2 separate regions of the Homo sapiens genome follow, and region 2 is linked to region 1. Evidence: fine-mapped expression QTL. A gene starts in region 1. The other region holds a variant in brackets. All regions are shown on one strand. Distances are between the middles of the regions.

What was found.
Region 2: its variant is fine-mapped to the expression of GEMIN7 in whole blood (TOPMed, PIP 0.99).

What each region holds. Positions count from the first base shown.
Region 1 is chr19:45,071,051-45,085,955 of GRCh38, forward strand. It overlaps GEMIN7 (gem nuclear organelle associated protein 7), which reads left to right and starts at 8,210. Exons shown (of 3, transcript NM_024707.3): 1 at 8,210-8,327; 2 at 8,857-8,979. It overlaps ZNF296 (zinc finger protein 296), which reads right to left and starts at 5,428. Exons shown (of 3, transcript NM_145288.3): 1 at 5,026-5,428; 2 at 4,663-4,812; 3 at 450-1,530. The coding sequence starts at 5,323. The coding sequence ends at 551. GEMIN7-AS1 (GEMIN7 antisense RNA 1) reads right to left here. Exons shown (of 2, transcript NR_134887.1): 2 at 14,279-14,590. RefSeq lists silencers at 4,245-4,554, 4,885-5,124, 5,215-5,624, 8,028-8,287 and enhancers at 8,457-9,224, 9,993-10,758.
Region 2 is chr19:45,028,707-45,043,611 of GRCh38, forward strand. RELB (RELB proto-oncogene, NF-kB subunit) reads left to right here. Exons shown (of 12, transcript NM_006509.4): 8 at 182-286; 9 at 3,828-4,043; 10 at 5,538-5,606; 11 at 5,745-5,822; 12 at 8,699-9,486. The coding sequence ends at 9,084. CLASRP (CLK4 associating serine/arginine rich protein) reads left to right here and starts at 10,339. Exons shown (of 21, transcript NM_007056.3): 1 at 10,339-10,402; 2 at 11,478-11,605. The coding sequence starts at 11,507. RefSeq lists an enhancer at 10,013-10,882. The variant A/C (reference allele first, on the strand shown) is at 8,652.

The sequences.
Region 1 (14,905 bases):
AGGCCAGATGCCAGTGCTGCCTGTGTGGGACATCTTGCCCCCATCTGATGGCTAAGTGGCAGGCCCCTGTTCATCAGAACCTGCCATGGCTCAGTGAGGCCTGCTCAGGAGGCCAGGGCACAGTCCCAAGGGAGAGGGCCCAGACCTGCCCGCAGATGTGGACATAGGGTGTCGGCCCAGCATGTCCCACATGGGCCCCTTTGCCCAGGGCCTCTGGCGACAGGTCCGGGCCTCTCCCCGCCCTCGCCTCAGCCCCTGCCCTGGCCTCGCCCGCACTAGGAACTGGGAGCGCAGCTTTCTGTGCCAGTCCTGCTGCGCCCCAGGCACTGGGGGCTGGCCGTTCCCTCACCCCCTCACTCCAAACCGGTCTGTCCAGCCGTCCACCCCACGGAGGGGAAGCCTCCTGCCCCACCTCATGCACCCCAAGAAAGCCAGAGTCCAGACGGGTGTAAATAAAAGGGAAAATTTACTTGGAGAAGGCGGGCAAAAACGAGGAGGTCAATGGGTGTTGGCAGCGGTACCAGGGACAGTGAGGGGGGCTTTCCTGGGCTCAGGCCTCGCCGGCCGCCTCAGGGTGCTTCTGCCGCAGGTGTTTGTCCAGGGTGGCTCGCAGGCCGAAGGGCACATGGCAGTGGGGGCACTCGAAGCGGGTGCTGCCAGGCGTCATGCCGTGCATGCGGCGGTGGCGGTTGAGCTTACTGCTCTGGGCGCAGGCGTAGTTGCAGAACTCACAGGTGTAGGGGCGCTCCCCGGTGTGTGAGCGCCGGTGCACCGTCAGGTTGCTGCTGTTGGTAAAATGCTTCCCGCAGAACTCACAGCTGCCCCCGGGCCCGCGGCTCTTGCCCCCTGACTTGGGCATCTTTTTGGGTGATGCCTTCTGGCTGTTTGCAGGGTCAGTTCTTTGTTCCGTGGTGATGGCTCCCCAAGTGTCTCCACCAGGGCCGGCTTGAGCCCCACTGCCAGGAGCCCCGGGTTCCTGGACACCTGCTGTGGCGGCGGCTCCAGCCCCCTCACCACCGCTGCATGGAAGGGTGCTGGTGGGGGCAGCAGCATGGACAGCCGGCTCCGGAGGGGCTGCAGAGGCCTGCTCCTGGCTGGTGTCGGCCATGAGGGGGCTCTGGGGCGGCACCTGCCGGTGGGTCTTCTTGTGGCGGTTGAGCTTGCTGCTCTGGGCGCAGGCGTAGGGACACTGGTCGCAAGCATAGGGCCGCTCGCCTGTGTGTGAGCGCATGTGCACTTTGAGGTTGCTGAAGGAGCTGAGGGTCTTCTTGCACACAGGACAGGTGGGGCTCCGCCGGGTGAGGCCGCTGCCACTTGCACGGGGGCTCTTGGCCTCAGCTGCTGGCCCCACCACTGCCGACACGGCTGCAGCCACCTCGGCCAGGCCCAGGAGCGGGGCCTCCGGGGCCTCTGATTCTGTCTGGTAGATGGACAGTCCGTGGTCCCACTGGGCGTGACGCAGCAGCTTCCAGGCCACTGTGAACTGTTTGCCACAGCGCAGGCAGCTCAAGGCCTTCAGCTCCTCTCGTTCTGGTAAGAAAAAGAGGCAGAGTGTTAGTGCGGACAGCTGCCAGCTGGACACCTTCTGTGGGATAGGCACTCCTGCAGGGGCAAAGGACTTGGCAGTAACAAGACACACACACCCTGGAAGGACCAGGAAGCTGACGCTCAGAGGAGGGGTGGACACGAAAAATCTGTGGAGTGGGTGCTAAGTACCTGAAAACATTTTTTTTTAGACAGTCTCACTGTCGCCCAGGCTGGGGTGCAGTGGCACGATCTCAGCTCACTGCAACCTCCACCTCCTGGATTCAAGCTATTCTCATGCCTCAGCCTCTAGAGTAGCTGGGATTACAGGCGCCCGCCACCATGCCTGGCTAATTAGTAGAGATGGGGGTTTCACCGTGTTGGCCAGGCTGGTCTCGAACTCTTGGCCTCAAGTGATCCACCCACCTCGGCCTCCCAAAGTGCTGGGATTATAGGCATGAGCCACTGTGCTGGGCCATGTGTTTGAAAATCTTTTAAAAAGTTATGTTAACTCAGTAAGCGCTTCCTACATGCTAGGTGCTGAGCCATGGCTCATAGCCCGGCTTTCCCTCAGGACAGGAAAATAAGATCTCCATTTTCCAGACAGGAGAACTGAGGCACAGAGAGGCATTTCCCCAGGGTTGCACAGCTTGGAAGGGGTGAAGCTGGGATTTCAATCCAGACTACTGGGGGAGGGGGAGAGGGCAGAACAGAGGCTTGCTTGCTTTTTTTTTTTTGCTTTAAATTTTTAATTTAGTATTTTTTAAAGAGATGGGGTCCTGCTATGTTGCCCAGGCTATTTTTTTTTTTTTTTGAGACGGAGCCTTGCTCTGTCGCCCAGGCTGCAGTGCAGTGGCGCGATCTCGGCTCACTGCAAGCTCTGCCTCCGGGGTTCACGCCATTCTCCTGCCTCAGCCACCACGCCACAGGGTTTCACCGTGTTAGCCAGGATGGTCGCGATCTCCTGACCTCATGATCTGCCCGCCTCAGCCTCCCAAAGTGCTGGGATTACAGGTTTGAGCCACCGCACCCGGCCGCCCAGGCTATTCTTTAACTTAATGGCCTCAAGTAATCCTTCCGCCTCAGCCCCTCAAAGTGCTGGGATTATAGGCGTGAGCCACCATACCTGGCTGGGAGCAGAGGCTTTTGAATAAGATTTTTGGTTTAGGCCGGGCACGGTGGCTCACACCTGTCATCCCAGCACTTTGGGAGGCTGAGGCGGGTTGATCTCTTGAGGTCAGGGATTTGAGACCAGCCTGGCCAACATGATGAAACCCTGTCTCTAGTAAAAATAAAAAATAGCCGGGTGTGGTGGTGCGCGCCTGTAATCCCGGCCACTTGGGAGGTTAAGGCAGGAGAATCGCTTGAACCCAGGAGGCGGAGGTTGCAGTGAGCCGAGATCCCACCACTGCACTCCAGCCTGGGTGACAAAAGCGAGACTCTGTTTCAAAAAAAAAAATTTTTTTTGGTTTAATAAAAATAATTTTTAAAGTAATTGAGATATCTGGGCATGGTGGCTCATGCCTGTAATCCCAGCACTTCAGGAGGCCAAGGCAGGTGGACCACCTGAGGTCAGGAGTTTGAGACACCAGCCTGGTCAACATGGTGAAACCCTGTCTCTACCAAAAATACAAAAATTAGCTGGCCATGGTGGTGCACGCCTGTAGTCCCAGCTACTTGGAGGGCTGAGGCAGGAGAATCACTTGAACCTGGGAGGCGGAGGTTGCAGTGAGCTGAGATTGCACCACAGCACTCCAGCCTGGGTGACAGAGTAAGACTCCACCTCAAAATAATGGGGTAGCTACAGAGAAAGCTTAGCGGCCACCTAGTAAAGAGGTGGTAGTGACCTGGGTCCCCCACCCTCTGCATGGATCTCAAATTGAGCCCCCAAACCTGAATTTGGATTTCTATCTGGACCTTCGGGGTACTCTCAGTGGACACTTCCTAGGTGAACTAGCCTTTCCATTTTTCAAATTCTAGAGTCTTGGATGGGACAACCTTTGTGATACAACCAGTCCTGGGTCAAGAGCACAGGCCTGCATTCAAATTCAGACTTCTCTGCTCCCTAATTGTGTGACCTTGGGCAAGACATAGTCCTCTGTGTGCCTCAGTTGCTAGAATTCAGGGACCCTAGAGATCCCCTCCCTTTCAAGGGTGGTTGTGACCTCGCTTGGGGAATGGTTGAGAGCTTTGGTCCACATAAGCGCTCAAACAGCAGAGCCTGTGAAACCAAGGTGCCCATGATTCTCCAAGCCCTGTAGTGTTTTGTTCCAGCGATTCCATCACAGCCCCTCGCTCGCTCCTCCAGGCCACTCTCCATGCTCCAGCTCTAAAGCTGATTCAATCAGTCACAAGCCCCTCCTCTTTCCCACCACCAGACCCTCCCTGGCCCAACCCTAAATAATTCCACTTCTCAAAAGTCTCAGAAGGGCAAGGGCCAGGGGGCTGGAAACTAGGTTTGGATTAAGCCCTGCAGCCAACACTGACCAAAAGCTCACCGAGGGTCAAGCCCCATGTGAAGGCTTTTAATTCCCTCCCAAGAGAAGGAACCCGGGTGTCCAGCACCCGGGAGCTCGCTCAAACCAGGGGATTCCCAGCACGCGGGGCTGGGAGATTCCATCACCGAGGGAAGCCAGAAGCCCCTTCCTTGGCTCTGAACACTCAGCTGTACTAGCACCTCAATCAGAATTGACAGAGAGAGACAGGAGGGGGTGGCAACCTCCCCATTCCAGCTGGCCTCCACTCCCCCTCCCCCCGGCCGCTGCCCTCCCTAGAGGTCCCCTCCTACTGCCACCCTGGTCCAGCCACCTGGCCAGTTATTTCTGGCCAAGGGGAAGGAGAAGTGAAACCAGGTTGGGGTGTGTGTTGGGGGGGGCAAAATCCCGGGCTAGTCTTCTGGGGCTGGCCACACCCTGTAGGCGGCCCTCCTTCCCTGCCCAGTCCCCCCCCGCCCCCCCTCCACCGCCACCACTGGTCCCTGCCCTAGGACGGGCAGGCCCTGGCCACGCCTAGGCTGCACCCGATGGGGAGCGAGAAAGGGGAAGTAGTGCTCAGTGCCCTGCCGTCCAGCCCAGCCCCTTTCCAGCAGGAAGCCCAGCCCTCGAACTTGAGAGGGGGACTGCACCCGGCTTTACTCACCTGAGCCCTGGCCGCGGCTGGGGCCTCTGAAGAGCTGACAGCCCAGCTTCTTGTGGTCCATGAAGGCAGTGATGGCCTCCAACGGGAAGGTCTGCAGGCAGCGGCCGCAGGTCAACAGATCTGGGTGTTTGTCGGTCCAGGGCTGGCGGTCTGCAGGGAGGAAGCGGGTGGTGAGCGTGGGGTGGGGCCAGGATGGGGGCTGAGGGTGCTGAAGGAGAGGGGAAACCGAAGGTCAGAAGGGGGCCTGAGGGGCAGGACGGGGCGAAGGAGATAAGGCAGGGCGAGGGGCCCATGCCCAAAGGGAAGGGTCCCACCCGAGGGTCAAAGGTAAGGGAGGCTGGGCCCAGGGCCCGGGGTGCTCACCGGGATAGTTCGGGGTCAACGGCGTCCACAGGGTCCACGGGTTCCGCGGGCCGAGGGCGAGGAGGGCGGCCCCGGCGGGCATGGGGCCAGGGGAGTGGTGGGGTTCGCCGCCGAACCGCCCCGCCGAGGACACCTCCTTCGGGGAGAAGGGCCCCAGCCTTGGGGCCTGTTGGGGCTGCGCGTCTGGCTCGGGCTTGAGTTCGATGACGAGGTCCTGCATTTCCATCTCGTCGTCTGGGTTGGCGGCGGGCGCGGGCTCTACTCGGCGGGGCGCGCTGCCGGCCTTGCGGCGGGACATGAGTCGCGGGCCGGGCGAGCGAGCGGGCGGGCAGGCAGGCAGGCGGGCGGGCGGAGGACGCACGAGCGGAGGACGCGCGGACCGTGCGCGCTCAGGTGAGTGACTGCGGCGACCCGCCGCGAACTCTTACACGTGCTGGCCGGGCCCGTGGCTCCGCCTACCAGGGCGGGGCTCATGGGAGGGGACCGAGCCGCCCTGCTGGGGCCCTGACGGCGGCCTAACTCAATCTAGGCAGTGTCCCGTGCGTTTGGCTTAGTGACCAAATTTAATCACACCGAGTTCCCACAAGGCATTGAAACAGCTATCCCTGATCCCGTTTTAGGGCGGGTGAAACTGAGACACGGCATGCCCACACGCACCCCCAAGCGAGAAAAATAGTCGGTCACGTTTCTTATTAGGTGCCTGATAGTAATCTGGGCTATTTCATTAAATGCATTACAATAAAAATTCATTTTGCAAGCATTCACTGAGTGCCTCCTGTGCGCCAGGCTCTGTTTGAAGCCCTGAGAATACAGGAGGGAATAAACAGAAGATAATCTTTGTTTGCACGGAGTTCAGACGGTGGGGGAAGACACTATAAACATAATTACGTAAAATATAGATGGCCCTTCATGATGACCAGTGCCATGGAGCAAAAGAAAGCTGGAAAGGCGGAGAGGGTTACTGGGGTTGAGGGATTCAATTTTCTCCCCTATGATGGGAAAGGGCATGGTGGAGCTGAGGCTGGAGGGAAGGAAGCCCAGCCAGTGGGCCTGGGCATTGAGGAATTACAAGGAAAGGGAGAGGCAATACGGGTTGGGGATTGAGTTCAGTGAAAATATGGGGGCAGATCCAAGCAATCTTTTGATCGCTTTAAGGTCTTTTGGTTTTCCTGAGACCGGAGCCTTAGGAGGGTTTTGAGCAGAGGAGGACTGTAATCATACACATCGACTCTGTTCCTAGACCAGAAGTCGCCATTAAAACCAAATAGCCAAGCAGCTCACCTGCCTCCACTCCGCCTCCTTGAACTTCCCTCCCCTAAGCAGTTCTGTCTGCTCACTGTTTGAAGTGGCATCGACACCCTGCCCCACCCTCAATCCCTGATGAGTATTCTTTTCTTCCTGGCACCGACTGCACGACAGTATAGAACGGCTTGTGGACTGTCCTCTCCCCCACCCAATGCAAGCCCCCTGAGGTCAGGGCAAGAACCTGTCCTCCCCCAGCTGTCCTCAGCCCAGATGCTGATTTCAGATGCTGATCTCTTGGAGTTCTGCACATTGTTATTCAGGTCTGGGTTCCATTGTCCTCCTGAGAGCAGAGGGCCCTGACCAACAGTATCTAAAGTAGCCCCACCCTGCTGAAGGCCTTGCAAATTACACTCCATGACCTCCATCTGTCCCCAGTTCCCTCTTGGATCTCACTTTCTCCATCTGTCAAAGGAGGTAGGGCAGGTTGGAACTAGAGGGTTATCTGAGGTGGTTTCTTCTTCACTGCCGCCTCCTCTGATCACCCTTTTTTTTTTTGTAATTTTTAATTTTTCAAAAAAAATTATTTTTAAATAGAGACAGGGACTCGCTTTGTTGCCCTGGTTGGTCTGAAACTCTTGGCTTGAAGCGCTCCTCCTGCTTCAGCATCCCAAAGTGCTGAGATTACAGGTGTGAGACACTGCACTCAGCCTCAGACCACCCAATTTTAAGTTCCATGGCAACCCAGCCACCCACTATCCCATTGCCCTTATTTTACTCTTTTTTTTTTTTTTTTTTTTTGAGATGGAGTTTCACTCTTGTTGCCCAGGCTGGAGTGCAGTGGCACGACCTCAGCTCACTGCAACCTCCGCCTCCCGGGTTCAAGTGATTCTCCTGCCTGAGCCTCCGGAGTAGCTGGGATTACAGATGCCCGGCTAATTTTTCTATTTTTAGTAGAGACAGGGTTTCACCATGTTGGCCAGGCTGGTCTCGAACTCCTGACCTCAGGTGATCCACCCGCCTCAGCCTCCCAAAGTGCTGGAATTACAGGCGTGAGCCACCGTGCCCGGCCTATTTTATTCTTTATACATCACTTTGATCAAACCCTGAAGGATCTTGTTTACATATTTGCTCATTTTACCCTATTCTGTCCCTTCTACCCCCACTAGAACGTAGGTTCTAGGAGGCAGGATGGGAGTCTGTCTTGTTCATAAATACAACCCCTACTCGTTCATAGTTAAGTCAACAAATATTTATTGCGCACCTACTATGTGTCTGATGATATTCTTTCAACAGATATTTGCAGAGCACCAAATTGTGTACCTGGCACTAGGCCTTGGTGATCTAGTGGAAAGCAAAGGCCCACAGGATCCCTGCGTAAAGAGGACCCCGCAAGGAGAAAGTGAATTCTGACTGGGCCTGGAATAGGGAGGTTCATATTCCCCATTCAAGGCCTCAGTTTCCCCCTTTGTAAAATGGGACTGCAGGGAGAGCTGGAGGACAAAATGACCGCCTCTGATCCAGCCCAGCTACTTTCTTAGTATGCGGCATCTGAAACCATGATCTCCAGGTTTCCTGTAGAGGAGCGGGGGTTCCCACTGGAAGCAAGGGGTTAGGAGTGGGTATGTGTAGGGGGATGGGGATGCAAAGACCGAGCTCTGCCCTTAACCCAGCAGGGAGGAAGTCTTCCCCTCTCTGAACCTCAGTTTCTTCCTGCCTAAAATGGGCATCCCAGACGCCCCCAACTCGCAGGCAGGAAGATCGGTCCCAAGTGCCCCGCAAAGCCGCGGGCCAGGTGGCGACCCGGGCTGTGCTGGCTTCCAAGCCTGCGAGCCAGCCCGCGACCACGTGGGGCAGTGGCGGCGGCGCGGGCGGAACCCAGGCTCCGCGGCTTGCGGCCTGCCCGGGCCTCTGCAGCGGGGGCGCCGGCGGAAGTGGGGACACCAGTAGCCGCGGACCTCGGTGAGTACAAGGTGGTGGGGGGTCGCCAGCAGGTTCCCTCTCCCCGGCCCCAGCTCTGGACGCTCACCCCAGTGCAACGCCCTGAGTGACGGAAAGAGGTAGGACCGCGCCTGCAGCGCCGGCTGGAGGGACGTTCTGGTCCCCAGACGCTCCTATCAGGGACTGTTTGATCCCGATCGCCGGCAGCGGGAATGCCCCACGCGGGTGGGGTGAGGAGAAGGGAGAAGGAGAAAAACTTCCCCTCCGGAAAATAATAAATGGCCACGATAACAGAAGCATCGGTGGCAGTCATCCCGCTTTACCTGGAGCGGAATCGCTCGCTCAGTCTGAGCCTGGAGGTGGGAAGAAGGTCCAGTCCGAACGCCCAGGGCGGTGTGGGGAGTGGACGCCTGGGGGCCGGGAGGACCTACTTAGTATAAGAAAAGGAGAGCAATGGGTGGTCAGGGCGGAATTGAAAGGAAACTGACCGGCCCCAGGGGAGAAGGGGAGGGGAGAGATTCTGTGCTTGGGGTTCTGACCCTCTCGGGTGGCCCCATTTAGCTAATTTGCATCAAGATTCAGCAGCCGATGATGTCTGTATGTGTGTGTGTGTCTGTGGACACGTCAACACCTTGGTTAATTAATTAGGTCTGGCGGCTTCTCTGTTGACAACTCAGCTGGTTCCACACCCTGGCAATTGTGAAGAGTTGGCCAAATGTTTGTCCACTGAGCTGATCTCCTCTCTGGAGCACCGGGGCCACCAGGAGGGAGGTCTGTGAAACCCCTGCCCCTGCCATTGACCTAAGTGTTGGGCTCTTGAATCTAACAGACTAGTTTTTCAAGTCGTGGGGGATGGGCTTGGGCATTTTTCCCTGAAACCTTCGGAAATCCTTGCCTTGGAGACTGAAAGGATAAAGGCCTCTGGGGCCAGGTCACCAGGGACAATGGATAACGCCTGCCTCTACCCTCCTGGGCACACCCTGTGTGATCTTTCTTAAACCAGTTTCTTATCAGGTCACACCTTGGCTCCACAGTCTGCCTTTCTACATGGGGCACGGGTGAGGACCAGAGTTTGCTCCCTCTTCCTCCACCCTCCAGCTTGCACCAAGGAAATGATTTTTTTTTTTTTTTTTTTGAAACAGAGTCTCACTCTGTGGCCCAGGCTGGGGTGCAGAGGCGTGATCTCCGCTCACTGCAACCTCCGTCTCCCTGGTTCAAGGGATTCTCCTGCCTCAGCCTCCTGCGTAGCTGGGATTACAGATGCGTGCCACCACATCCAGCTAATTTTTTTTGTATTTTTAGTAGAGATAGGGTTTCACCATGTTAGCCAGGCTGGTCTTAAACTCCTGACATCAGGTGATCTGCCTCCCTCAGTCTCCCAAAGTGCTGGGATTACAGGTGTGAACCACTGCACCCAGCCCGAGGAAAGATTTGACCTGCCAGCTTCACTGGCCACTTTACAAAAATGGGGATTGCATCAATATGACCAAATCTCCCTTGTTTTTTGTTTTTTTTTTTTTTTTTCCTGATGGAGAAAACAAGGCCCTATACTGGCCCTCCCTTAATTTCATTTTATCCAGGGATTTAACAGAATTCTTTGGCCACTCTAATCCTATCTAAGTCATTTAGTAAGTACTCACCCTAGAGACTAGGGGGTTTCTCTTGAAACTCAAGTGTTAATCTAGGCTCAGGAAAGACCCTGGGGGCTGGTGAGGCCTGACTAAATTGGAGTGACAGTGGTCAGAGAAAATAAAAAATGCAAGTAGGGCGTGTTGGCGTGGGCCTGTAATCCCAGCTTCTCGGAAGGCTGAGGTGGGAGGATATCTTGAGTCCAGGAGTTCAAGATTAGCGTGGGCAATACAGCGAGACCTCACCTCAAAGTAAATAAATAAGTAAATGTGCTTTTTAAAAAATTAGAAAATGCAAGGCCGGGCACGGTGGCTCATGCCTGTAATCCCAGCACTTTGGGAGGCTGAAGCAGGCAGATCAGGAGTTTGAGACCAGCCTGGCCAACGTGGCCAAACCGCGTCTCTACTAAAAATACAAAATTAGCCATGTGCAGTGGTGCGCGCCTGTAGTCCTAGTTACTTGGGAGGCTGAGGCAGGAGAATTGCTTGAACCCGGGAGGCGGAGGTTGCAGTGAGTTGAGATCATGCCACTGTACTCCAGCCTGGGCGACAAGAGTGAGACTCCGTCTTAAAAAAAAAAAAAAAATTAGAAAATGCAACTATCCCTTAATTCCATTCACGTGGTCTTCCCTGTCAGGAAAAAAAAAAAAAACCTTGGAGTCTCCCTTGGCTGCTCTTTCCCTCAAATTATATATCCCTTATCCTGTCCATCACCGAGGGCTCTTGACCTTTCTTTTTTTGTTTGTTTTTGTTGTTTTGAGATGGAGTCTCACTCTGTCATCCATGCTGGAATGCAATGGCACGATCTCCGCTCACTTCAACCTCCGCTTCCCGGGTTCAAGCGATTCTTCTGCCTCAGCCTCCCGAGTAGCTGGGATTACAGGCACGCACCACCACACCCAGCTAACTTTTGTATTTTTAGTAGAGAGAGGTTTCACCATGTTGACCAGGCTGGTCTCATCCTGACCTCAGGCGATCTACCCACCTCAGCCTTCAAAAGTGCTGGGATTACAGGCGTGACCTACTGCGCCCAGCCTCGACCTTTCAAACATAGCCTAATCTGACCACTTCTCCCCATTCCCATTGTCCCCAGCCCATACTAGACGCCATCTTCTTCCACCTGGACCACTACAGTGACCTCCTCATTGCGTTCCTAGTGTCTCCCTTCAATCTCGTTTATTGTCCATGCAGCAGGCAGAGGATCCTGAGGACCTTAAGCCAGATTCTGCCCATCCTTCACTCAGAACTGTCCAGTGGCTTCAGTCTCAGAGTAGAGACCCAAATTGTCATCACAGCCCACAAGGCACTCTCTCTGTCCCTGCCCCCACCTCCTCCACACTGGCCTTGCTACGCCCCAAAGCCACCCTTTCCATGATCTTTGCATTTTGCTCTTCCTTCTGACTGGAATCTCCACATGGCTCCATTCCTAATTTCATTCAGGTCTATGCTCAAACGTAATCTTATCATAGGGATCTTTCCTGGGCTCCCTTGAAACTACCCTCTATCCCCCAGGCTGGGTCAGGTGTCTCCTCTGGACTCCTTCATTCCAGCCCTACTCACTTTGGGTCATCACTGCCTAAGGACAGGTCTGTGTCCCCTATTGGACTGTGAGCCCACAAAGGCGGAACTGGGCTCTCAGTCCTAGACGTGTTTCCAAGACCGCCCAATGTGGGTCATGCACAGAGCAGGCACTCAGATGATGTGCTAACAATGCTAGATAATGTGGATGAGTGAATTTTTTTTTTTTTGAGACAGGGTCTCATACTCTGTCACCCAGGCTGGAGTACAGTGGCACAGTTATGGCTCACTGCAGCCTCCACCTACCAGGCTCAAGCGATCCCCTCACCTCGGTCTCCTTAGTAGCTGGGACTCTAGTCGCACACTACCCATGCCCAGCTAATTTTTTTTTTTTTTTGTAGAGATGGGGTTTTGCTATATTGCTCAGGCTGGTCTTGAACTCCTACGCTAAAGCAATTCTCCAGCCTCAGTCTCCCAAGGTGCTGGGATTATAGTTGTGAGCCACCGCACCTGGCTAGAAAACTTTTCTTTGGTGCATAAAAATGATATAAAATTCAAATTTCAGTGTCCCAGTAAGTAAGGTTTTGTTGGAGAACAGCCATGTTCATTTGTTTCCATATTGTCTATGGCTGCTGTTGTGCTACTGTGGCAGAGTTGAGCAGTGACAGTAAAATACTTACAGAGAAGGTTCGCAGACCTCTGCTACGTATTTTGCCAAGAAGAAAAATAAAATAAAGTTAAAATTGAAAATATGTTGCCCGCTGGGCGCGGTAGCTCACGCCTGTAATCCCGGCACTTTGGGAAGCTGAACTGGGGGTGGGTCACCTGAGACCAGGAGATGTAGACCAGCCTGGCCAACATGGTGAAACCCTGTCTCTACTAAAATACAAAAATTAGCCAGGCATGGTGGCGCGCACCTGTAATCCCAGCTACTCAGGAGGCTGAGGCAGGAGAATTGCTTGAACCCAGGAGGCAGAGGTTGCAATGAGCCAAGATTGCACCACTGCACTCCAGCCTGGGGGATAGAGTGAGACTCCATCCCCAAAACAATTTTGCCAAGGAGGATTCTATTTGGGCCACCTATGGGCATGTGAGATCAGTAAGATTTGGCAGCTAATTATGCAGAGTGGGTGATGAGGTTTAGATGCCTCCCAGGGAGAGCTCTTTTTCACATTTTCTTTTCCAATTCTTCTTCTTTTTTTTTTTTTTTTTGTTTGAGACAGGGTCTCACTCTTCCCAGGCTGGAGTGCAGTGGTGCAATCACATCTCACTGCAGCCTCAGCCTCCTCCGGCTCACTAGATCTTCCCACCTCAGCCTCCTGAGTAGCTGGGACTACAGGAGCGCACCCTTTGCCCAGCTAATTTTTCTATTTTTCTGGAGACGAGATTTTGCTATGTTGCCCAAGCTGGTCTCAAATTCCTGGGCTCAAGTGATCCACCTGCCTCAGCCTCCCAAAGTTCTGGAATTACAGGTGTGAGCCACCTCGTGCCCAGCTGCTTCTTGCTTTCTGAAATTAAAATTTAGGCCGGGCACGGTGGCTCACGCCTGTAATACTAGCACTTTGGGAGGCCAAGGCGGGTGGATCACCTGAGGTAAGGAGTTCAAGACCAGCCTGGCCAACATGGGGAAACCCCGTCTCTACTGAAAATAAAAATATCAGCTGGGCGTGGTCGCGGGCACCTGTAATCCCAGCTACTTGGGAGGCTGAGTGACGAGAATCGCTTGAACCCGGGAGGCGGACGTTGTAGTGAGCCAAGATCGCGCCACTGCACTCCTGCCTGGGCGACAAGAGCGAGACTCCATCTCACAAAAAAAAAAAAAAAAAAAAGAAATTAAAATTTAGTGGCTGGGCATGGTGGCTTAGACCTGTAATCCCAGCACTTTGGGAGGCTGAGGCAAGAGGATCACTTGAGCCCAGGTTGGAGACCAGCCTGGGCAATATAGTGCGACTTCATCTCTATAAAATAAAATAAAATTAATTAATTAAAAATTTTATTTATTTATTTATTTATTTTGAGACAGAGTCTCGCTGTGTTGTCCAGGCTGGAGTGCAGTGGCATGACCTCAGCTCACTGCAGCCTCTGGCTCACGGGTTCAAGCGATTCTTATGCCTCAGCCTCCTGAGTAGTTGGGATTACAGGTGTGTGCCACCATGCCTGGCTAATTTTTGGGGCGTTTGTTTGTTTTTGAGATGGAGTCCCAGTCTGTCACCCAGACTGGAGTGCAGTGGCACAATATCTCAGCTCACTGCAACCTCTGCCTCCCGGGTTCAAGAGAGTCTCCTGCCTCAGCCTCCTGAGTAGGCGGGATTACAGGAGCCTGCCACCATGCCCAGCCCAGCTAATTTTATTTATTTATTTATTTTTTGAGACAGAGTTTCACTCTTGTTGCCTAGGCTGGAGCGCAATGGCGCAGTCTCGGCTCACCACAACCTCTGCCTCCTGAGTTCAAGTGATTCTCCTGCTTCAGCCTTCCAAGTAGCTGGGATTACAGGCATGCACCACCACTAATTACAGAAATGCACCATCAGGCTAATTTTGTATTTTTAGTAGAGGCAGGGTCTCTCCATGTTGGTCAGGCTGGTCTCGAACTCCTGACCTCAGGTGATCCGCCCACCTCGGCCTCTCAAAGTGCTGGAATTACAGGCGTGAGCCACAGTGCCCGGCCAACACCCGGCTAATTTTTGTATTTCTTAGTACAGACAGGGTTTCACCGTGTTGACCAGGTTGGTCTCAAACTCCTGACCTCAGGTGATCCGCCTGCCTCGGCCTCCCAAAGTTCTGGGTTTACAGGCGGGAGCCACTGTGCCCAGCCTATGTTCATGTCTTCTATAGCCATCTTTATTCCTTCCTCCCTCTTTGTGACCTGTTTGTCTGCATCAGTGTTTCATTTGGGGCCATCAGGAGACGTTTGGCAATTCATGGAGACTTTAAAAAAAAACTGTATTGAGATGCAATTCACATTCACCAATTCACTGTTCACCAGTGGTGACATTTTTGGCTGTCACAACTTGAAGATGGGATGCTACTGGCATCTATTAATAGGAGGCAGAGGCTAGGATGCTGCTCAAACCCTACACCTATGCGTTGGACAGCCCCCACAACATAGCAGATAATTATCCAGCCCCAAATGTCAATAGTGTCCAGACTGAGTAGCCCTGGTTCACATCCTTGGTCTATCTGCAGGGTCCTGTCTTGCAAGGGGCTCACAGTTCAGGTGCAGAGACAGGAAGAGCCTAATAAGAAAAAGGACAAGTTAGTCCAGGCACAGTGGCTCACGCCTGTAATCCCACCACTTTGGGAGGCTGAGATGGGGGGGATCACTTGCGGTCAGGAGTTCGAGACCAGCCTGACCAACATGGTGAAACCCCGTCTCTACTAAAAATACAAAAAGTAGCTGGGCATGGTGGTGTGTGTCTGTAGTCGCAGCTTCTCGGGAGACTGAGGCACAAGAATCTCTTTTTTTTTTTTTTTTTTTTTTGAGACGGAGTCTCGCTCTGTCGCCCAGGCTGGAGTGCAGTGGCGTGGTCTCGGCTCACTGCAAGCTCCGC
Region 2 (14,905 bases), 42 kb before region 1:
GTCCGAGTGACTTCTTTCTCCACCTGGACTATGGGTTCCATGAGGATCAGATGCCCTGCCTTTTCAATTCCCTACGTCTCCAGGGCCCCGGGGATGGCACCCACTGGGTGCCCAGTAAGGCTTTGGTGACTGAATTCTCGGGATTTTTTTTAATACACTTCTTCCTCTTGCTCCTTCCCAGAATCCACAAACACATCAGAGCTGCGGATTTGCCGAATTAACAAGGAAAGCGGGCCGTGCACCGGTGGCGAGGAGCTCTACTTGCTCTGCGACAAGGTGCAGAAAGGTGAGGGGCCTGGGGCAGCAAGCTTGGGCAGAGCGGGGTCTGGCAACTTGGAGGGGTAGCCAGGGAGCCCGGGAAGATGAAAGGATGAGAAAGAGCTGGTTAACCAGGGCACCAGAGTGCAAGGGTCCAGAACACTGTCTTTGCAGTCAGACACAGCTGATGGGTTCATTCACTCCCTGAGTCGCCTTCTCACCCGTCTGCGTAGGACGACAGAGACTCGTCTGTGGTGACCCATGCTGCAAGCTAGGCGGTGCCATCACAGAGCTCACGACATGTCCAGAGGACTCTGATGTTAAGGGTGGAATTGCATAAATGAACGCTTTACGGTGGTTCTGATAAGCGCTATGGGTAAAGCAAATAGGACAGGAGAAGCAACTCCACTTCATTCATCTCTGTTCAAATGGCCCTTCCTCAAACAGGCTTTTAAAAAAAAAAGACAGCTGGTCACCGTGGCTCAAGCCTGTAATCCCAGCAATTTGGGAGGCTGAGGTGGGTGGATCACTTGAGCTCAGGAGTTCGAGACCAGCCTGGGCAACATGGTGAAAACCCATATCTACTAAAAATACAAAAATGAGGGCTGGGCGCAGTGGCTCATGCCTGCAATCCCAGCACTTTGGGAGGCCAAGGTGGGCGGATCACCTGAGGTCAGGAGTTCGACACCAGCCTCCCAACATGGTGAAACCCCATCTCTACTAAAAAACACAAAAATGAGCTGGTTGTGGTGGCATACACCTGTAATCCCAGCTACTCGGGAGGCTGAGGCAGGAGAATCGCTTGAACCTGGGAGGCAGAGGTTTCAGTGAGCCGAGATCACGCCTCTGCACTCCAGCCTGGGCCACAGAGCAAAGCTCTGTCTCAAAAAAAAGAAAAAAAGAAAGAAAAGAAAAAGACAGCTGGGCACAGCAGCTCATGCCTGTAATCCTAGCACAGTTTTGGAGGCTGAGGCGGGCAGATCACTTGAACTCAGGAGTTCGAGACCAGCCTGGGCAACATGGTGAAACCCTGTCTCTACAAAAAATAAAAAATTTAGCAGGTGTGGTAGTGTGCACCTGTAGTCCCAGTTACTTGAGAGGCTGAGGTGGGAGGATCACTTGAGCCCGGGAGGCGGAGGCTGCAGTGAGCCAAGATTGCACCACTGCTCTCCAGCCAGGGCGACAGAGACAGACCCTGTCTCAAAAAATCAAAACCAAAAACAAACCGGCTGGGCTGGTGGCTCATGCCTGTAATTCTAGCACTTTGGGAGGCTGAGGTGGGAGGATCACTTGAGCCCAGGAGTTTGAGTCCAGTCTGGGCAACATAGCAAGCCCCCATCTCTACAAAAAAAAGTTCTTTTTAATTAAAAAATAGCCAGGCATTAGGCCGGCTGTGGTGGCTCACACCTGTAATCCCAATACTTTGGGAGGCCAAGGTGGGCGAATCACTTATGGTCAGGAGTTCAAAACCAGCATGGCCAACATGGTGAAACCCTGTCTCTACTAAAAATATAAAAATTAGCTGGGTGTGGTGGAACACACCTGTAATTCCAGCTACTTGGGAGGCTGAGGCACGAGAATCACTTGAACCTGGGAGGCAGAGGTTGCAGTGAGCCGAGATCATGCCATTGCACACCAGCCTGGGCAACACAGTGAGACTCTGTCTCAAAAAATGAAATAAAATAGCCAGGCATGTTGGGGCATGTGCCTGTAGTCCCAGCACTTGGGAGGCTGAGGTAGGAGGATTGCTTAAGTGCAGGAGTTGGAGGTTACAGTGAGCTATGATGGTGCCACCGCACTGCAGCCTGGGCAATAGAGCGAGACTCTGTCTCAAAATAGAATAAAGTAAAGTGAAGAAACTGGTTCCAGAGATATCTAGTAACTTCCCCAAGTTATAACAGAGTTGGTAGTGAAGAGTTCTAGCCTTCCTGGGTTTCCATCTTGGCTCTAACACTTGCCAGCTGTGTGACCTTGGACAAGTGACTTCACCTCTCTGTGCCTTCATTTTCGTCTTTATACAATACGGTACCTAATAGTACCTTCTTCATAGAGTTGTTGTGTGACTTAGAGGCAATCTATATGTAACTGACACATATAAAGTCTCAGTACATGGAGGTACTGTGATGACGGGCGATGCAGTAAGACAAGAAAAATAAATAGCAGGCAGAGTAGCATCATGAATCCTGACTCTTCCGCTACCAGTTGTGTGATGTCTCAACACTTTCAAGCCTCAGTTTCCGTTTTTGTTTTTTTTTTTAAGAACCAGGCTCTCGCTCTGTCTCTTAAATAGCTGGGACCACAGGCGTGCGCCACCATGCCTGGCTAATTTTTTAATTTTCTTGTAGAGACAAGGTCTTGCTGTGTTGGCCAGTCTGGTCTTGAACTCCTGGCCTCAAGTGATCTGCCAGCTTTAGCCTCCCAAAGGGCTGGGATTACAGGTGTGGGCCACTATGCCTGGACAGGCACCTTTTTTCTCTGCTGACTGTGCCTGGTATCCTTTTGCCATAACAGATCATAGCTGTGAGTATGACTGTATGCTGTCTTGTGAGTCCTCTTACTGAACCACCTGAGGGTGATCTTGAGGATCCCTGGACATGAGGGGGATATTAATTCTTTTGTTTGTTTGTTTGAGGCGGAGTCTTGCTCTGTCCCCCAGGCTGGAGTGCAGTGGTGCGATCTTGGCTCACTGCAAGCTCCGCCTCCCGGGTTCACGCCATTCTCCTGCCTCAGCCTCCTGAGTAGCTGGGACTACAGGCGCCTGCCACCATGCCCGGCTAATTTTTTTGTATTTTTAGTAGAGACGGGGTTTCACCATGTTAGCCGGGGTAGTCTCGATCTCCTGACCTCGTGATCCGCCTGCCTCGGCCTCCCAAAGTGCTGGGATTATGGGCGTGAGCCACCGTGCCTGGCAAGGGGGATATTAATTCTACCTACCTCTTAAATTGTTATAAGGATTAAATGAGATAATATATATAAAAATACATAAAACAAGGCCGGGTTTGGTGGCTTACATCTGTAATCCCAGCACTTTGGGAGGCCAAGGCGGGCAGATCACGAGGTCAGGAGAGCGAGACCATCCTGGCCAACGTGGTGAAACCCCGTCTCTATTAAAAATACAAACATTAGCTGGGCGTGGTTGCACATGCCTATAATCCCAGCTACTCGGGAGACTGAGGCAGGAGAATTACTTGAACCAGGGAGTTGGAGGTTGCAGTGAGCCGAGATCATGCCACTGCACTTCAGCCTGGAGGCAGAGTGAGACTCCATCTCAAAAACACACAAACAAAAAAAAACCAAAAATAAAATTAGCCGGGCGTGGTGGCATATGCCTGTAATCCCAGCTATTCCGGAGGCTGAGGCAGGAGAATTGCTTGAACCCGGGAGGCAGAGGTTGCAGTGAGCTGAGATCGCGCCATTGCACTCCAGCCTGGGCAACAGAGCAAGACTCTCAAAAAAAAAAAATTTTAAAAAGGGGGAATATTAGTCTTGATTTTAGGGGAGGCTGGGCAAGTTGGGAGCACAGTGGTCCAGATGTCCTGGCTTAGCTGATGTCCCCCGTTTCCTGCCAGAGGACATATCAGTGGTGTTCAGCAGGGCCTCCTGGGAAGGTCGGGCTGACTTCTCCCAGGCCGACGTGCACCGCCAGATTGCCATTGTGTTCAAGACGCCGCCCTACGAGGACCTGGAGATTGTCGAGCCCGTGACAGTCAACGTCTTCCTGCAGCGGCTCACCGATGGGGTCTGCAGCGAGCCATTGCCTTTCACGTACCTGCCTCGCGACCATGGTAACTACAGCAACCCAGGGTGACCCACCACCTCGGAGACTAGGTCTTTGGCCTTGGGGAGACCCCAGTGGGGATGGGAAAGAGGCAGAACTAGAATGCAGGCTCAGAGCTACAAAGACAGTGTTCAGATCCTGGCTCTGCTGCTTACTGGTTGTGTGACCTTGGCCTCTCTGAGCCTCATTCTTCTGTGCAAAATGGAAATAATAGTAGCTGTCCTGTGACATTTGGAGAGTATTTAATCTTTCCTCCCCTCAGCATCCTGCACATGCCCGGGCCTGTGCTCGGTATTGCTAGAGACACAGCAGTGACCAGCACGGCCCCTAGCTGTGTCCTCATGAGGCTTATAGTCCTGAGGATAGGGGACAGCCTGTCCCTACAGAGTGATGACCAGAGTGGGCAGGACTGGAATGAAGTGCTCAAGGGCTCACATTGCCCAGAGGGGGTACCTGACCCAGCTGTAGGTGTCAGGGAATGCTTCTTGGAGGAGGGGACAGCTGAGCTGAGGACAGGAGGATGACTAAGCAGGGAAGTTTTCTAGGGAAATAGTGAGAGTGGAGGAAGAGTGCTTTAAACAGCTGGAACAGCAGGTGCAAAGGTCCTGAGGCCGGATTGTGCCTGGGGTGCTCCAGGAACAACAAAGAGGCCAGTGTGTAGGCCGGGCGCAGTGGCTCATGCCTGTAATCACAGCACTGTGGGAGGCTGAGGCAGGCGGATCACCTGAGGTTAGGAGTTCGAGACCAGCCTGAACAACATGGCGAAACCCCGTCTCTACTAAAAATACAAAAATTAGCCGGGCGTGGTGGTGGGCGCCTATAGTCCCAGCTACTCGGGAGGCTGAGGCAGGAGAATTGCTTGAACCCGGGAGGCAGAGGTTGCAGTGAGCCAAGATTGTGCCATTGCACTCCAGCCTGGGCAACAGAGCAAGACTCACTACAGGCACCCGCCACCATGCCCGGCTAATTTTAGTATTTTTAGTAGAGACCGGGTTTCGCCGTGTTGGTCAGGCTGGTCTCGGACTCCTGACCTCAGGTGATCCGCCCACTTCAGCCTCCCAAAGTGCTGGGATTGCAGGAGTGAGCCACCACGCCCAGCCAAGACTCCATCTTTAAAAAAAAAAAAAATAGGCCTGGCACAGCAGCTCACACCTGTAATCCCAACACTTCGGGAGGCCAAGGCAGGCAGATCACTTGAGGTCAGGAGTTCAAGACCAGACTGGCCAACATATAGTGAAATCCCATCTCTACTAAAAAAATACAAAAATTAGCTGGGCGTGGTGGCGCACACCTGTAATCCCTCCTACTTGGGAAGCTGAGGCAGGAGAATCACTTGAACCTGGCAGGCAGAGGTTGCAGTGAGCCAAGACCGTGCCACTGCACTCCAGCCTGGTCAACAGAGCAAGACTGTCTCTAAAAATAAATAAATAAATAAATAAATAAAGGAATTAATTATTATTGATGAATTACTTCTTGTGTGTCCCTGGTATCTCCTTAACAGACAGCTACGGCGTGGACAAGAAGCGGAAACGGGGGATGCCCGACGTCCTTGGGGAGCTGAACAGCTCTGGTGTGTGCCCTCTGCCCCTTTCCACCCCCATCCCCAGGTTCTGGGGAGGGGACAGCTGACCCCACTGCCCTGTCCCACCCCAGGCTGGGGAGGAAGGGCTGTCGGGGAACAGGGGTCCTCATCTCTGCCTTCCCTCAGACCCCCATGGCATCGAGAGCAAACGGCGGAAGAAAAAGCCGGCCATCCTGGACCACTTCCTGCCCAACCACGGCTCAGGTGGGTCCCAGCTACACATAAGCCCCTGTCCCCTGGGTGGGCAGAGGGTAAGTGGCAGCCCTGCTTTTCTGGCCTCTTCACGCCCTCCAAGAGCAGCCACAAGGCGAGTCACTCAGCACTTAGCCAGCAACATAGAGTAGAAAGAATGAGGGCTTTGGAGACAGAATGGAAGTTCTGATCTCTTCTGGGCCATTTCCTTGCTATGTGAACTTCATTAAGTTGTTCTACCTCTCAGAGCCTCAGGGACTCCTTTGAAAAGGCCCAGTACATACTTAGCTCAGTGGTGTTTTAAAATTTGATCTATTTCTTCTTTCTTTTTTTTTTTTTTTGGAGATGGAGTCTCGCTCTGTCGCCCAGACTGCAGTGCAGTGGCATGATCTCAGCTCACTGCAACTTCTGCCTCCTGAGTTCAAGCGATTCTCCTGCTTCAGGCTCCCAAGTAGCTGGGACTAAAGGCATACACCACCACACCTGGCTAATTTTTGTATTTTTTAGTAGAGACGGTGTTTTACCACATTGGCCAGGCTGGTCCTGAACTCCTGACCTCAGGTGATCTGCTTGCCTCAGCCTCCCAAAGTGCTGGGATTACAGGCATGAGCCACTGCATCCCACCTATGATCACATTTAACTGCATTTACAGCAAAACCCAAAATAACAGGGGCTTCAACAGGATAGAACGTTATTTCTTGTCTCACATACATAGTCTGTAGGGACTGAAAGTGGCTCATGCCTGTAATCTCAGCACTTTGGGAGGCTGAGGCAGGTGGACTGCTTCAGTCCAGGAGTTTGAGACCAGCCTGGCCAACGTGGTAAAACCCTGTTTCTACTAAAAATACAAAAATTAGCCGAGTGTGGTGGTGCACACCTGTAGTCCCAGCTACTTGGAGGCTGAGGCAGACAAATCACTTGAACCCAGGAGGTGAAGGTTGCAGTGAGCCAAGATTGCACCACTGCACTTTAGCCTGAGCAACAGAATGAGACCCTTCTCAAAACAACAACAACAACAACAACAAAACAGGCCTGGCACTGTGGCTTACGCCTGTAATCCCAGCACTTTGGGAGGCCAAGGCAGGTAGATCACGAGGTGAAGAGAGAGAGACCATCCTGGCCAACATGGTGAAACTCCATCTCTACTAAAAACACAAAAATTAGCTGGATGTGGTGGCACATGCCTGTAGTCCCAGCTACTTGGGAGGCTGAGGCAGGAGAATCATTTGAACCCAAAAGGTGGAGGCTGCAGTGAGCCAAGATGGTGCCACTGTGTTCCAGCCTGTCAACAGAGCAAGACTCCGTCTCAAAAACAAGAAACAAAAAACAGTCCATAGGTAGGTGTTCCAGGGATGGTCTGGTGACTGCATGATCATCGAGAGACCGAGGCTTCTGCCATTTTCAGTTCGCCAACTCATGGTGCAAGGTGGCTGTTGTAGCTCCAGCCATTACGCCCACGTTCCAGTTAGCAGACCTTAGTCACATGATCACATCAGGCTGCAAGGAAGGCTAGAAAATAGTCCCTTGTGTCTCTAAGGTTTGTCTTGTTCCAAAAAGAGAGTCCCTCTTTTTTTTTGAGATAGTCTTGCCCTGTTGCCTAGGCTGGAGTGCAGTGGCACAATCTCAGCTCACTGCAATGTCCACCTCCCAGGTTCAAGTGATTCTCCTGCCTCAGCCTCCTGAGTAGCTGGGATTACAGGTGCCCACCACCATGCCCTGCTAATTTTTGTATTTTTGGGAGAGAAGGGGTTTCGCCATGTTGGCCGGGCTGGTCTTGAACTTCTGACCTCAGGTAATCTGCCCGCCTCGGCCTGCCAAAGTGCTGGGATTACAGGCGTGAGCCACCATGCCTGGCCTGAGAATCCCTCTTATAATGAAACTTTTTGATTTGATTGTTATTTTTTCTTAAGTCCCCATTATGCCTGAGAATGACATTTATTTTTTCTGACAATTTTGGGACTGGTGACTTCCCAACTTGTGTCTCCCATGGTCTGGAGATTTCACTTTTTGGGTTGTCTCTGTATGTTGGGGGGCTTTGGAACCTCTTCTCCTTTCTCACTCTCAGGGAAAACTCTCCACAGCTGTGTAGGAGCATGGTTTCAACCCCAGTTCCACAACAGCTGTGTGAGCCTTCCATTTACTTTCCCTCAGTGCCTTAGTTTACTTATTATTAATTATTTTTAGAGATAAGGTCTTGCTCTGTTGCCCAGGCTGGAGTGCAGTGGTGTGATCATACTTCGCTGCAGCCTCAAACTGGGCTCAAGCAATCCTCCTGCCTCAGACTGCCAGGTAGCTGGGACTACAGGCGGGCACCACCACACCCAGCTAACTTTTAAATAATTTTTTTGTAGAGACAGGGTCTCGTCACGTTGTGCTGGGATTACAGGTGTGAACCACCACGCTTGGCCTTCAATTTACTTATTATCTGAGAATGGTGATAGTCCCACACGGATTCTCCTTGGGATTAAGAGGGCACCTAAGGCCAGGCTTGGTGGCTCACACCTGTAATCCCAGCACTTTGGGAGGCCGAAGCAGGTGGATCACCTGAGGTCAGGAGTTCGAGACCAGCCTGGCAAACATGGTGAAACCCCGTCTCTACTAAAAAGATAAGAATTAGCTGGGCATGGCACATGCCTGGCCTGTAGTTCCAGCTACTCAGGAGACTGAGGCAGGGGAATCAACTTGAACTGGGGAGGCAGAGGTTGCAGTGAGCCAAGAGCACGTCATTGCACTCCAGCCAGGGTGACAGAATGAGACTCCATCTCAGAAAAAAAAAAAAAAAGGCCACCTTGATATCACATTTTGCAGGGAGTAGGGCATTTGATTTAGGGCCTGATCAGA[A/C]GTTAGCCCTAAATCACACTACACTTCTCTTGTCTTCATCCCCGTAGGCCCGTTCCTCCCGCCGTCAGCCCTGCTGCCAGACCCTGACTTCTTCTCTGGCACCGTGTCCCTGCCCGGCCTGGAGCCCCCTGGCGGGCCTGACCTCCTGGACGATGGCTTTGCCTACGACCCTACGGCCCCCACACTCTTCACCATGCTGGACCTGCTGCCCCCGGCACCGCCACACGCTAGCGCTGTTGTGTGCAGCGGAGGTGCCGGGGCCGTGGTTGGGGAGACCCCCGGCCCTGAACCACTGACACTGGACTCGTACCAGGCCCCGGGCCCCGGGGATGGAGGCACCGCCAGCCTTGTGGGCAGCAACATGTTCCCCAATCATTACCGCGAGGCGGCCTTTGGGGGCGGCCTCCTATCCCCGGGGCCTGAAGCCACGTAGCCCCGCGATGCCAGAGGAGGGGCACTGGGTGGGGAGGGAGGTGGAGGAGCCGTGCAATCCCAACCAGGATGTCTAGCACCCCCATCCCCTTGGCCCTTCCTCATGCTTCTGAAGTGGACATATTCAGCCTTGGCGAGAAGCTCCGTTGCACGGGTTTCCCCTTGAGCCCATTTTACAGATGAGGAAACTGAGTCCGGAGAGGAAAAGGGACATGGCTCCCGTGCACTAGCTTGTTACAGCTGCCTCTGTCCCCACATGTGGGGGCACCTTCTCCAGTAGGATTCGGAAAAGATTGTACATATGGGAGGAGGGGGCAGATTCCTGGCCCTCCCTCCCCAGACTTGAAGGTGGGGGGTAGGTTGGTTGTTCAGAGTCTTCCCAATAAAGATGAGTTTTTGAGCCTCCGGGGTTTCGTCTGTTCTGGGCTTGGGAAACGCCCTAGTCCCTTAGTAGCAAAGAAAGCCTCCAGGCTGGGGGCTCAGGCCTGTCATCCCAGCACTTTGGGAGGCCAAAGCAGGAGGATCGCTTGAGCTCACGAGTTTGAGACCAGCCTGGGCAACATGACGAAACCTAGTCTCTACAAAAAATACAAAAATTAGCCGGGCGTGGTGCTGCGCGCCTGTAATCCCAGCTACTCTAGAGGCTGAGGTGGGAGGATCGCTTGAGCCCAGGAGGTGGACGTTGCAGTGAGCCAAGACCGCACCACTGCACTCCAGCTTGGGCGACAGCGCGAGGCTGTGTCTCAAAAAAATAAAAAATGAAAATGAAAATAAAAAATGAGACCGGGCATGGTGGCTCATGGCTGTAATCCCAGCACTTTGGGAGGCCGAGGCAGGTGGATCACCTGAGGTCAGGAGTTTGAGACCAGCCTAACCAAAATGGTGAAACCCCATCTCTACTAAAAATACAAAAATTAGCCGGGCTTGGTGGCGCGCGCTTGTAGTCCCAGCTACTCGGGAGGCTGAGGTGGGAGAATAGCTGAAACCCAGGAGGCAAAGGTTGCAGTGAGCCTAGATCGCGCCACTGCCTTCTAGCCTGGGAGACAAAGAGAGACTCCGTCTCAAAAAAATAAAATTAAATAAATAAATAAAATAAAAAAGATAAAAAGATAAAGCATCCAAGCTCTTCCCTTCTCCGCTCTCCCACTTCTTCCTCGGGATCCCGCCCCTCTCGACTCTAGGACCCGCCTCTCTCGTCGGCGGAAGTGCGCTGCGCGGCCCTCCACCATGCTCCGCCCCCTCCCCCTAGCGCGGCCTTTCATTTCCGCTTCCGGTGCGGGCCGCGCGCGAGCGCAGCGGTGGGAGGCGGCGACCAGCCGGTGAGTGCAGGCTGCGGCTCGACCTCCCGGTTTTCGGGCAGGCCTCAGCCCAGCTTCTCCCTTTCCTCAGGCTCTCCCCATGCTGCTGTGGGCTTCTGCTGCGTCCCGGCCCCGAGGATCGCTCGTCCCTCACCCCATTAGGCCTGACGGGCCTCAGGCCGAGCCCGTGCCCCGGCTGTGGGCCAGAAGTTGCCGCGTCGAACTCGGCCTTCGGCCCAGCAGCTTATCACAGGCCCCGCCCCCTTGTCAAAAAAAAAAACAACAAAAAAAAAACCCAGCCCAAATCCTCAGGCCGCGACGCGATCCACAAGCCCCGTCCAAACCTTCGGTCTCCGCCCTTTCCCGCAAGCCCTGCCCCCAAGCTCAGCCCACGCCCTCCTGTCAGCCAGCTCCGCCTCTCTCAGGCTCTACGCTCTTTTTCTTTGGATGCTCTCCCCACCCCGCCATCTAGATCCCATCTTTAGACCTCAGCTTCACTCTGGTCTCCTTGCAACACTCCCTCCCCGTGTTCCCACTCCCTCTAGCATCTTCATCTTCCGCCACGCCCTTCACCTGTCCTCGACCTCCACCTTCATACAACTGCACTGTTCCCTTAAAAGCTTTCTCCGATTTCCTCCACCTGCCTTCATCCTTATTCTCCTTATCCCTCTACCACCCAGACTCATACCCAACCCCACGCATGGCCCCTAGTGGGAGCCTTTTCAGTTCTTCTCTTTCTCTTGAGCTCCAGCCTTAAGTGCTCAGGGTTTGCCTTCTGACCCTACTTCAAACACTGCTGATGTTTCAAAACCTTTCATTCCCGACTCCAGCGCGTGGAATCTAGGACACCCCTTTCCCAGTGATGCTCACCTCAGAATCACCTGAGGGTTTTTCAGAATGCCCAAGCTTCTAGATCGAAGTTGTTAGGGATGGACTTGAACATCTGGCATACTGTTCTGCAGCTTCACTTCTGCTCCCTGAAGCTAAGAGATGTGTTGTTTGGGATCGACTCTGCCACCAACTTGTTAGATGACTTTGATTCTGCCCATACGGGTTTCACAGACCATCTGACTTTCCTGGTCCCTTCATCCCTCAGGTTGAGGCCCCAGGCTTGGCCTCACCACAATGTGGCACGAGGCTCGGAAGCATGAGCGGAAGCTTCGAGGCATGATGGTCGACTACAAGAAGAGGGCGGAGCGGAGACGGGAGTATTATGAAAAGATCGTGAGTAACTGGCCTTTTGTCTGGGGTGAGGGACCCTGGGTTGGGGGGCACAGCTGGTCATCCTGGTAAAATCTGGGCTTGGAAGTATGTCAAGACAAGAGGCTCATTTCCTCAGGAGTATATTCATTAATCTTTTCTTGAGGATAATCATTGGTGGGATCCCAAGGGCTTCTGTTTGTTGTAGCATACTGTGTCGTTTGGTGTGGCCTCCCAGTGCCGATCCGGTGTTAGCAAGAAAAAGGGAAGTCTCTGTAACCCTCAGAGCAGTCCTGACGTTAGACTGGCCACCTCCAGAATGTCTGTTTCGCTTATTGCTGTGTTCCCCATTCCCAGAAGAGCTCAGCCACTCTTGAGATTTGGCTTGGCACACAATAGGAGTGAGTATTAAGTTGGCCTGGCACAGTGGCTCACGCCTGTAATCCCAAGTGGATCACCTGAGGTCACGAGTTCGAGACCAGCCTGGCCAAAAGGGTGAAACCCCATCTCTACTAAAGATACAAAAATTAGCCAGGCTTAGTGGTGTGTGCATGTAGTCCCAGCTACTTGGGAGGCTGACGCACGAGAATTGCTTGAGCCCGGGAGGAGGAGGCTGTAGTGCATGGAGATTGTGCCACTGAACTCCAGCCTGGGTGACAGAGCAAGACTCAACGCCTGTAATCCCAGCACTTTGGGAGGCCGAGGTGGACAGATCACAAGGTCAAGAGATCGAGACCGTCCTGGCTAACACGGTGAAACCCCATCTCTATTAAAATACAAAAAATTAGCCAGGTGAGGTGGCGGGTGCCTGTAGTCCCAGCTACTCGGGAGGCTGAGGCAGGAGAATGGTGTGAACCGGGGAGGGGGGCAGAGCGGAGCCTGCAGTGAGCTGAGATAGCACCATTGCACTCCAGCCTGGGCGACAGCGAGACTCTGTCTCAAAAAAAAAAAAAAAAAGACTGTCTCAAAAAAAAAGGAGTGAATATTAAGTGAAACCTGACCACTTCCCTCTCCTGTCTGATGCTTCAGTTGTTTTTGCGGGGAAGACCAAACTATCCCTGGCCTAAAAGACCCTTGTGGTCTGACCACTCAGCTTCATACTCGGACAGCTCCACTGGCCTTCTATTTCTGCCACCACAGGGCTTTGGCCTATATTACCCCCCCTCACCTATTTAACTCCTGTGTATCCTTGGGATCCCAGCTTGAAATGGCACCTGTTTTCTAGGTTCAGTGTTCCTGTCAGATGACATTTATATAGACCTTTCCCAGTTATTCCTGTATTACTGCCCCAGCCTCCTCCCTGGTCTGCTGGCCTCCAGTCCTGGCTCCTCCAGTCTGTCCTTCCTAGAAGAGTCCAAGAGGCCTTTCTAAAGCACAAAACTGACCCTGTCCCTTCGTTGCTCAGAGCACCTCTATGCCTCCTAAGTGCCCTTGAGAGAAAGCCCAGGCTCCTCACTGTGGCCTTTAGGGTCCTGCATGGCCTGGCCTTTGCCCTTCCTCCAGACTCACACCACCCCACACTCTGCCTTGTTCCTTTGCACAAGTCATTTTGGCCTCCTTGCTATTCCTCCACTGACCCAAGCGCTCCCCAGCCACAGGACCTTTGTATGAGCTCTTCCCATACCTGGTTAACTACTGCTTATCTGTCAGATCTCAGTCCTCAGAGAAGTCTTGTTTCCCAAGCTCAGTCAGGTGTCCTCTAAAAATGCCATAATCATAGCTCCCTTTCCTTCCCCTTTGTGGAATTTAACACACTTAAGATACACATACATGGGCCTGGTGTGGTGGCTCACGCCTGTAATCCCAGCATTTTGGGGGCCAAGGCAGGTGGATCACCTCAGGTCAAGAGTTTGAGACCAGCCTGGCTAACATGATGAAACCTCGTCTCTACTAAAAATACAGAAATTAGCTGGAGGTGGTGAGGAGCCTGGGCTTTCTCTCAAGGGCACTTAGGAGCCATAGAGGTGCTCTGAGCAATGAAGGGACAGGGTCAGTTTTGTGCTTTAGAAAGGCCTCCTGGACTCTTCTAGGGAGGACAGACTGGAGGAGCCAGGACTGGAGGCCAGCAGACCAGGGAAGAGGCTGGGGCAGTAATACAGGAGTAAATGGTAATCCCAGCTACTCGGGAGGCTGAGGCAGGAGAATTGCTTGAACCCGGGAGGCATAGGTTGCATTGCTCTCCAGCCTGGGCAACAGAGTGAGACTCCATCTCAAAAAAAAAATTTATATATATATATATATGTGTGTGTATGTATGTATACACACACGCACACACATACGCATACACAGGTTGAACATCCCTAATTCAAAATCCGAAATGCTCCAAAATCTTTTTTTTTTTTTGAGGCAGAGTCTTGCTTAGTCGCCCAGGCTGGAGTGCAGTGGCATGATGTCAGCTCACTGTAACGTCCACCCCCCAGGTTCAAGCTATTCTCCTGCCTCACTCAACCTCCTGAGTAGCTGGAATTACAGGCATGTGCCACTATGCCTGGCTAATTTTTGCACTTTTGGTAGAGACAGGGTTTCACCATGTTGGTCAGGCTAGTCTTGAACTCCCGACCTCAAGTGATTTGCTTGCCTCGGCCTCCCAAAGTGCTGGGATTACAGGCGTGAGCCACCACGCCCGGCTAGCTCCAAAATCTGAAACTTTCTGCATACTGACATGATGCCCCACTATAAGTGGAAAGTTTCACATATAAGTACTTTACACAAACTTTGTTTCATGCACAAAATTATTTAAAATATTGTATACAATTACCTTCAGGCTGTGCTTATAAAGTATAAATGAATTTGGTCTTTGGACTTGGGTGCCATCCCTAAGATATCTCATTATGAATAGACAAATATTCCAAAATCTGAAAAAATCTGAAGCACCTCTGATCCCAAGCACTTCAGATAAGGAATACTTTGTGTGTGTGTGTGTGTGTGTGTGTGTGTGTGTGTGTGTGTCCCGTCTCTACTACAAATACAAAAAATTAGCTGGGCGTGGTGGTGGGCACCTGTACTCCCAGCTACTCGGGAGGCTGAGGCAGGAGAATGGCATGAACCCGGGAGACAGAGCTTGCAGTGAGCCGAGATAGTGCCACTGCACTCCAGCCTGGGCGACAGAGCGAGACTCCGTCCCAAAAAAAAAAAAAAAAAAAAAAATTTTTTCCATTCATACGTATATGCACATACCCAGCTCTGTGAGACTGGGGACTAATTATATTTGGGTCACGTTTGTACCCTAGGGTTGGGTCCATCAAATATGGTTTGAAAGAATAGATGAATAAAACAATATTAACAATAGTAATTAACCATTTAATTGATCCTTCGCAGGCACCC